Regions from separate parts of the Homo sapiens genome. Here all the other regions are reported to be linked to region 2. The links are microRNA targets in miRTarBase. Many come from high-throughput screens and were not tested one by one. Region 2 holds a microRNA gene; each other region holds the end of a gene's coding sequence.
What was found. Region 2 holds the annotated microRNA hsa-miR-4652-3p (GUUCUGUUAACCCAUCCCCUCA, at 1,753-1,774, shown strand). A microRNA usually pairs through its seed, bases 2 to 8, with sites in the 3' UTR of a target mRNA and lowers its output. Matches are read on the target gene's strand: a 7mer-m8 pairs with bases 2 to 8, a 7mer-A1 pairs with bases 2 to 7 and ends in A, and an 8mer does both.

Region 1: miRTarBase lists SMIM14 as a target of hsa-miR-4652-3p. Seed matches in the 3' UTR shown: 7mer-A1 at 1,596-1,602.
Region 3: miRTarBase lists KLF12 as a target of hsa-miR-4652-3p. Seed matches in the 3' UTR shown: 7mer-A1 at 903-909.

What each region holds. Positions count from the first base shown.
Region 1 is chr4:39,549,483-39,552,744 of GRCh38, forward strand. It overlaps SMIM14 (small integral membrane protein 14), which reads right to left. Exons shown (of 5, transcript NM_174921.3): 5 at 1-2,676. The coding sequence ends at 2,644. The region is part of intron 2 of UGDH-AS1 (UGDH antisense RNA 1); the gene reads left to right. Among named protein-coding and RNA genes, the nearest start is that of UGDH-AS1, 23 kb to the left of the region's middle.
Region 2 is chr7:93,715,225-93,718,486 of GRCh38, forward strand. It overlaps MIR4652 (microRNA 4652), which reads left to right and starts at 1,704; the gene lies at 1,704-1,781.
Region 3 is chr13:73,692,709-73,695,970 of GRCh38, reverse strand. KLF12 (KLF transcription factor 12) reads left to right here. Exons shown (of 8, transcript NM_001400136.1): 8 at 300-3,262. The coding sequence ends at 481. Among named protein-coding and RNA genes, the nearest start is that of LINC00393, 32 kb to the right of the region's middle.

The sequences.
Region 1 (3,262 bases), not on the chromosome of region 2:
AGGCTGGTCTCAACCTCCTGACCTCAAGTGATCCACCTGCCCCAGCCTCCCAAAGTGCTGGGATTACAGGCATGAGTCACTGCGCCCAGCTCCCAAAGCCAATTTTCAATTATTTGTGAGCCATAGATTCAGTGACTACATCAATATCTCTTGCCAGGGATTGGCCTAACAGCTCAGAGAACAGATTGTTAGGATATATGGGCAAGCCTTCTAAGTTCAAGAGGCAAGAGCAGAAAATGGAATGCTATAGGGATTTAGCTCCATCTTAAGCCATTCTGGCCCTTTCTGCTCTACTTTACCAGCTATAGAGTTAGGAAGGCTTCCAGTAGGCCACAGCAAGAGGAAAAACCTTTATTCTGTGGGGCTCATTTATCCAGGATTTAACTTACCTGTGTCATGTTACCGATCTATTAACACAAGTAATTTAGAGTTGGTTATATTATTTCAAGAAATTGAGCACAAAGCCAGGATGTACAAGGAGGAATTCAAACAATCAATATTGGATTATATAATGAAAAGATGCCCTTACAATGTTTATGATCTAGAATGTAATCATAATAAAGGGGGGAAAATACCTTATGAGTATCACAATTGTATCAGAGACTATTAAACAGTACAATGATACAGAGAATTTATTCAATTCATACAAGTAATTTACCAGATCTAAACAGTGAATAGACTGACCTAAGGGGAAAAAAATCCTTACATTGATAGCAAAATATCTTCTAGCCCCCATAAATAATCTGCAATCATTTGCTAGGAAAAAAACTTCATAACCATATGGGTCATGCAGACATTTTTATTTATTTATTTATTTTGAGACAGAGTCTCGCTCTGTCGCCCTGATTGGAGTGCAGTGGCACGATCTCAGCTTACTGCAACCTCCGTCTCCCAGGTTCAAGCAATTTCCTGCCTCAGCTTCCCCAGTAGCTGGGATTATAGGCACACACCACCATGCCTGGCTAATTTTTGCATTTTTAGTAGAGATAAGGTTTCACCATGTTGGTCAGGCTGGTCTCGAACTCCTGACCTCAGGTGATTCGCCTGCCTCGGCCTCCCAAAGTGCTGGGATTACAGGCGTGAGCCACCGTGCCCAGCCCATGCAGACATTTTTAAGTGCTATTGGTATTCACTTTATTTCAAACTGAGCAAAACAATACAACCTTTTACTTTTTTATACATTTTAAAATTTCTCTCATATTAACATTCCTTCCTACCCCAATCCATCCCATCACCAAACAGGAATGAGATAAGGAGTGAAAAAAAGATGTATGTTTCTCATTTTCCTTCTTTTCCCTTGAAGTAAACCAGTAATTTATTAAAATATTTTATAGGTCAGAGGATAACAAAAGACTCAATGTAGTAAATAAGTAAATAGGCATTCAAATATCAGTAACCTAACAGGCCCTAATACAGCTTTAAGATTTTCTTCTTTTTTTTTTTTTGAGAGGGAGTCTCGCTCTATTGCTTAGGCTGGAATGCAGTGGTGCGATCTTGGTTCACTGCAACCTCCACCTCCCGGGTTCAAGCAATTCTCCTGCTTTGGCCTCCTGAGTAGCTGGGATTACAGGCACATGCACCAACCCTGGCTAATTTTTCTGTATTTTTAGTAGAGACAGGGTTTCACCATGTTGGCCAGGCTGGTCTCGAACTCCTGACCTCAAGTGATCCACCCACCTCAGCCTCCCAAAGTGCTGGGATTACAGGTGTGAGCCACTGCACTGGCCTAAGATTTTCATTTTAACAGGGAACTGTTAGAACAGAAAAGAAGCTTCCCAAGAGGCACTCATTTTAAAAATAAATTATAGCTTAAATTATTACTATGTGGATTATATCAGCAAAGGCAGAAAGAATTAATGTTTTCCTCCTTTCATGAACCTTGTAAGGCTAGTGTTGAGTGGCTTACAAATGTCATATAATGGACTGTAAATCATCTGCCATATTGATCAATCATGTTTATTTAAGGTTTTCTTAACATTAGAGATTTTTAATGGGAGTATAAAATTAGTAAACAACCATTTCATTTTTTCTCTCTTCCTATTCTAGCCACATAAGCCAGTTTAATCCATGACACAGATTTCAGCTGTAATTTGCAAAACAATCCAAGAGCTACCACAGTCCCCAAAACTACAGAAAACTGCCATCCACAAATAAACTACCAAGGTAAATGTAAATACAGCGTGGTTCTAATTTTCTTTCACACAATCCCAGACAACCCCAAATAACTTTATAAATACCTTATGAAAAAAAGCAATTTAAAAACCTATCAAATCTATTTAAAATATATAAATGCAGACCTCTCAAATTTCCTTCAATCAGGCCAGAAATTATCACAAAAATTATAATCACAGTTACAAACAGAATGAGTGGAATGTTTGTAAGTTTAGGACAACCAAAAAAGCCCCATGTAACTTTTTAAAAATATAATCATTCACTCAAATATACTGTAAATAGGAATGGCAGTAACACAGGAAGCAAAAATAAACTTGCAAGTGAAATTTCTAGAAGCTCATGAAAACAATACCATCCCATATTGCAGATACAAAAGGAAAAACAGTTCTAATGGGGTTAAGAGTACTCTGGTCATCTTCGTTCGTTTGGTCGTGCAAGGTGTTAACTATTTTCACTTCCCATATCACAAAGTTAGTCCACAGGAGGAGCTGGTGGATCTTGTCCCTGGCATTAGAAAGAAATAAATTATTTAATTGACTTTTTAAAAATTCAAAAAAATTTAAAATTTATTACTTTTTTAAAAATTGACTTATTAAATCCCAGTGCAACCAATCTAACACATAGAGAAACAACTGAGCAGCAATGCCCCCAACCATCCCATCCCAAATATATGCTTATTTGGACTTTTCATATGTTTTTACATGAGGGAACACTAGATTAAATAACACTGTGATTTTCCACCATTTGTCTCATTTTTCCCTGTAGAATGGAAGAGAGAGGGAATTTGTACAACAGTGATGTTATCACTCCTGCCAACCCCAGGAGTGATCTTCAAACCTATGAAAATATCTTCATCCCTCTTGCTAAAGTCGATTGGCTAAGCAAAGTACTGTATATTTAAAATGAAGCTAGGGACTTTTGTTTCTCAATACTGAATGTCTACGAGGATGCATGTGGCTGCAGTTGCTTCTGGTAGTCATCCTATAACCCTAAGGGGAGCCCATCTTGGAATGAAGTTGTTAGTATGAGGAAAGAAACTAGGTCTTTGATGACACTGTTGAAACTTTCTTAACACTGACCCTACCTCTGA
Region 2 (3,262 bases):
TTTCTTGGGGTAAGGGTTGTAAGAGAAAAGGAAAGGTTTGTGCATATGTGAAAAAAGATTACTCAAAGTAGTATCAACCCAATTGTAGGTGTTAAGAGTTCAAAGATAGGAAGCTTTCTAGGGCATCAAAAACCCTCTAAAGATTTCGGAACTGCGGGAGGTAACATCTATCAAGAGAATTCGCCAGGGTGGCCGCCAGGGGTCTCCTGTGGACCAGGAAGCCTTGACCTAGGATAAGTCCATGGTTTATGAAGAGAGAAGGAGCCTGTCTTCATGGAAAGAGGGGAATGAAAAAGAAAGTCTTGTCCATATTTACGCGGCATAATCTTACATCCTAGAATCAATGAATGCTAGACCAGAAAGGAACTTGATGGATTTTCCAGCTTGGACCTCATTTTAAGATTAGGAAATTTAAACCCAGAGAGGTAGTGAGGACTAACCTGAAGTTACACAGCTGGTGAGACACACAGTTGGATAATACTACAGATATCATGGATGACTTTTATACCATCTTACACTGTTAAAAACTCAGAGACAATCAGTACATAGAATTGCCGCACTGCAACCACAAAGTGATTCAGGTGTTGAAAGTACTGATCTTTGGTATTATTTTCACATCATAGTAATGGCATATAATGTTTGGAAACATATTATATGCCTATTATAACTACTTCATATTATAATGTAGAACTTAGCTCAATTTTAATGTTCAAGAACTGTCAAATAAATGTCCATTATTCATTGTTTGACAGTTATGAATACTTTCTTTTCCCTTTCCTGGCTTAGACATCTTCAAGAATTAATCATTACACTCAGCTTTGTTGGTAGTGAAAAGAAAACAAGTGAAAATCTCAAAATATACCACTTTAAATATGCCATCCCTGTTAAATGTCCACATTTACACACCTGCATTGTGTGCAACTCTTTGGATTCTGTCCTCTGCCTGCATCGGGCTTCCTATATCCTTATCGCTTTCAGCCTCTCCTTTCTCCCATCTCAAAGATTTATCCGTACCTCCCTACTGGTGTCCCCTGGATCCTCATTGCCCAGCTTCCTCCTCCCTTGTCAGATGTAGCCTCTTTACTGTCATTCATTTGTACATCCATCCAATCCACAAATATTTCTTGAACTCCAGCTATATGCAAGCTCTTGTGCAAGAAGCTGTGGGATTACACAAAGCTGTGGGGTATTGTCAGAGATGCTTCTTCCCCACCTCCAATTCAACTTTACACCTCACAGGGTAAGCTGTAACAATTACAGATTGCTTTGCGGCCAGGTGCAGTGGCTCAGGCCTGTTGTAATCATAGCATTTGGGAGATCAAGGTGGGAATATCCCTTGAGCTCAGAACTTGATGACCAACCTGGGCAACATAGACTGTCTTTACTAAAAATTAGCTAGGTGTGATGGCACACATCTGTAATCCCAGCTACCCAGGAAGGAGGCTGAGGTGGGAGGATCGCTTGAGCCTGGACATCCAAGCCTCAGTGAGCCATGATCACACCACTGTACTCCTGGACAACTGAGAAAGACTCTCTCTCTCTCTCTCTATCTATCTATCTATATATGCATATATATAATATTATATATATAATACTTTAGATAACTAAGTTACATACTATATATATAACTATGCAAAAGTTGGTCAGACTGGAGTAGTGATGAGAGTGATAATGGCCAACAGTGATTCAGAATCGTTTGACTCTATTGGACGAGGGGACTGGTTAATAGAACTAACTAACCAGAACTATTTTGTTCTGTTAACCCATCCCCTCATCTAATAGAGTATAAACCTCAATATAAGCTCAACTAGGCTGAGTAAGGCCAAACAAGCAGTCCCCTAGTGTCAGACCAGAGAGAAAAAGTGATGAGAATTTTAAAAATCTTTGCAATCAATGTCAGTGGTGGTTGAGAAGACCTTCTGAAGGGAGACTATGTGATGAAGGATTACGAAGTGAAAGAAATGGTCAGCATATTGTTTCCATTGAAAAGACAGAAAATCTTAAATCCAAGGTCATGTTCCTGGCCTTGCTACTGACCTGTAGGCAACAACTCACTGAGTTTCAGACAGCAAGTCTCTCTTCTAACAAACAGCTGACAACACCTCCTCTTAAGTATTACCCAACCTCTGGCCCCAAAGCACTCCTCAGTCCTCCAGTGCTACAATAAGTCATAATGATTACTCAAATGAAATAGAGATCTTTATGAATGAATAAGTTGCGGTGGTATGAGTTTTGAAACCACATCCCAAACCACATAGTAGAGAACAACAAAATCAGGTCAACCCAGGTGCACTAAAGAGAACTTGCAAAGCCCTTAAACCTAGGAAAAGGAGGGAAGGAGAGGAGGAGAACAGGGAATAAGGGAGGAAGGGAATGAGGAGAGAGAGGAATGAAAGAAGGAAGGAACAAAGAAAGGGAGGGAGGGAACCAAAAGAAAGAGAAAGAAAAAGAAGGAAGAAATGGGGAGAAATGGGGAGAGAGAGAAAGAAAGAGAAAGAAAAGGAGGAAGGAAGGATGGAAGGAAGGAAAAGAAGGGAAGGAGGGAGGGAGGAAGGGAGGGGGGAATAGAGAGAGAGGGAGAGAGAGGAAGGGAGTGAGGGAAAGATGGAGAGAGGGAGGAAGGGAGGGAGGAAAGTTGAAAGCTTGTAGTATTTGCTGATTTTCATGGTGTATTTCCATCATATCCAATTTGTTGAATATGGAGTTCAGAAATGCTACCTGCAATTGCCTCTTGAGAGCAGGTTTGAGCTGGTGCCCACACCACTGTCTATCACTTTAGCCCTGTGAGTAACTGTCACTCATCTGTAAAATGGTGATAGCAATTTTGGCGTTGCCATTTCAAAAGACAACTGAGGAATTATTTGCCAGGGAAAAATATTTTTGATAACTAAGTTACATACCTTATAACAAAATTATAGCTGAATTAAATATTAGAGACTGAAAAAAATTAAGATAAATTATTCATGAATGTTACATAGTTTTTCAGCAAAATAACTTCCTATGAGTGATAACAAGAAAGCTATAAAGGAAAAGATTGAGGTATTGTATGGAATGAAAAGAAATTCTACTTTATGGCAAAAATATTATAAGCAGAGTTAAGGTTCATAGATACTTCTGCAGAAATTAAGAAAATAACATTAATGATTTTATACTATAATATTCCTCATGATTTCTGCTTTCTTTTGTATGCATGGTTATTATGTAATTCATACAATACAGTTTGAGGTCAGCAGACATTATAATCATCAGATGTCAAACTGCA
Region 3 (3,262 bases), not on the chromosome of region 2:
TAGTCTACTAGTGGTGATATATCCAGTGGCAGTCAATCCATGCCTTTATATGTTGATGGCAAAGTCATAATGGAGGACACCAGTGTTAACTAGCTTGCCAGATGTCACAGCAGGCAAGACGAGATTGAAACCATCACCTGTCTGACCCAGACCGCTGGTGGGATGGTAAGGTTTCCCGACAAAGATTTACCAACGGGAAAATTCATTGAGAACACCAGTTTCCCAAAATAGAGTACTGGCCTGGTTATGGCAAAGTGATGGATGGAGCACCAAAGCTTGTGTTCCTTTGTTTCTTCCAGGAGAGAAACCTTACAAGTGTACCTGGGAAGGCTGCACCTGGAAGTTCGCTCGTTCAGATGAACTGACGAGGCATTACCGCAAACATACGGGAGTGAAGCCATTCAAGTGCGCGGACTGTGATCGCAGCTTTTCCCGGTCAGATCATTTGGCCCTGCACCGCCGGAGGCATATGTTGGTGTGAGGAATGCTACCTGTCCAGCTGAGCGTAAGAGCTGGATCTCTTAGCGGCACCCAATTCAGCAGGGCTGAATCCCCTTCACAGTGTTAACACAAAAGGGCATCACCATCCCACGATGTCTGAAACCAGAGCAGGAAAAAGAAGGCACACTTCTTTTGGTCTGAAGGTAACCCCCATCATGACTAGACGAGAACCGTCTTTACCCGGGCCTGGGAGCTCAGTGACATAAATGCTGAAGAGACAGGCATTGTTTTCCGTGCTGTGTCCTCTGCCATTTAAAGATGTTTGTAGCTTGTACATTTTCTGAGCTGTCAGACATTTTGTTATTGATACCTTAAAGGTCACCTACCACAAATTGATGGCTAGAGCAAGACCTTTTAAATTTGGATGAATCTCCCATCATCCCATCCCTTAACCCCTTTTTACAGAAATTTTAGTTACAATCTGAGTAAGCTAGAACACACATCCAATCTGTTACCAGCAAGCAGCATGAAAGTAGAAACGAAGAAGCAGATGGAGAGGTCCCATTACCTGCAAAGAAAGGGCACTCAGGCAGCCCTTTGCAATCGCGATGGCAGCCACTAGATATCACTCTCAACTTGTCATTCTGCCATGCCCTGAAGAAAACCAACATTGAATCTTTCATTTGTTTGTCGTTGATTGTTTTTGTTTTGTTTCGATTCTGTTTTGTTCATCTGTTCGAGCAGAGGGGCAGTTGAAGTCTCGTCCTGGTCTCTGCCCTGGCATGGACTGGCACAGAGGTGTTCTGTAGTTGAATAGGAAGAGCCTGTCTAAAAAACTACTGCCCCACTTCAAATTGCAGTGTTCTGTCACCTAGGCATCATCTCTTCCTGCCCCTAGTATTTGATTACAAGGAACCAGGGGAAAAAAACTTTCTTAGACACACTGGCACCAAGGTAAGAGGTGGGGCTGCCCAGGCAAAGTCAGTGAACATGAAAACTCAGACAAAGCAGAGATGGAAATAATGCGCCTCTTGAGGAGAAAAGCAATAATGAATAAAAGGACTTTCCTACAATAACTTCACTGAGGACTCACGTTACCAATTTTCATACTTACTAAAGGGATTGTAAAAAACACCCCAGCATTTTAGGTGTCTTGGTTCCATTTACAGCACTGAGGTAATCTTTCTGCTGTTTGTTGTCCTGCTTGGTTGAGTACCACAATTAAAGATTATGCTCCCCTTTTCTTGTTTGAAAACAGTTATTTGGTGACTAGAAAGGCAAGGGAGGCATAGCCGGGAATTAACTCTTCGGTTAATGGGTCAGTTCTCCTTGGAACTGAATCAGTGGAAAGAGAATGCTTCCCATAGAAAGCCCGACATGGTGCTAGTTTCCTCTCTTGGAGAGCCAAGGATAAGTGACTCTCCAATAGGTTCTTCTATACCGATTTCATTTTCTAAACTGTATCAGGACCCAGGTGTCCTGCATTGGCATCTGCAGGGATATTGAACCCACTCATCCTGTGCAGAGGATGAGAGGAAGGTGTTAGTTCCATCAGCCCCATAAAATTATGAACCTTTTTGCAACTAGGAACATATACAGTAAACAAGCAATACATCACCAACGAGCATTCTTTCAGAAAAATTACCATATTTTTGTCCCCACCACAAGCTGGGTTTTTTTCCAGCTTTCTGTGGCTGAGGGGCTGGTGAGATTTTTTGTTGTTATTGTTGTTGTTGCTAGAATTTTTTATAGCTTAGATATAAAAGGTCTCCAACAAAGACCTTTGCAATATATTTTAATTACAAACACTTGATTTTGGGAATTGCACATATTAACCTCACAATATTACTAGCTCATTTTTAAATGTCTGGACATTCTGAAATAATTTCCGGTTACAGAATTACCCTTTTTAGGATCATCTTCTAATTCAGATAATCTTATTCTGATGAAGCGAGAACTATGAACGTTGAAACAAGGACAATTTGTGTTGGATGGTATTCAAAAGGAATTTTTTAAAACATTAAGCAACAGTGTAATGATTTTCAGGTCAAATTATGGCTTCACAAATATGTGCTCTATATTGTCTGCCAGGTCTCAAAAATTCATCAAGCAATTTCCCTCCAACAAGGGCTGCAGTTCTAGTGATAAATAGCATCTTTAGCTGCACAGTCTACTACTCATCAACCAGTGGGTTTTTTTTAGCACCTGGAAAGTTTTTTTGTACTATATGCAACTCCTACTTCACATTGCCTGTGACCATTCAGAATAGAAAAAGGTCTGTTGATGCATGCCAGTGCTGGTTACTAGTCAGTGACAGAGAACACAGAGAGGGACAAACACAGCCATGAACCCCCTGGCACTAGTACCAGCACCTAGTTGGCAAGTAGTGGGTGCATCTCTCAAGTGAAGTGTAGATTTGTATTTAGTCCTGCTTGCTCTCATAAAAAGAGCCAGTTCTTTTCTCTGCTGAAAGATGTCTTGAGAGTATTACAGGTAGACTTGGTTTTTAGAATTCATAAAACTGACAGGCAGGGGAATCTTCCTGAGTGACAGCTTGGTTTAAATTTAGCACAGAACTAGATGAGTTGCACTTTTCTAATAACATAGGATGGATTTGGGGAAGGGAACATTTTCCCTCATCCTCTGAAAGTGGAAACCAGACTGAGATGGTAAGTTAACTGATAAAACCTGTCAGCATTCCATCATTTTCCCCTTTTGACGTATCAGTACTTCTAAGAAGGGATCTAAGCACAATTAAGTGAATTGAGTCCCTGGTCTAGCCTCAGGAACTGAAACTTCTTTGGGGCTTGTCTTGAGACGT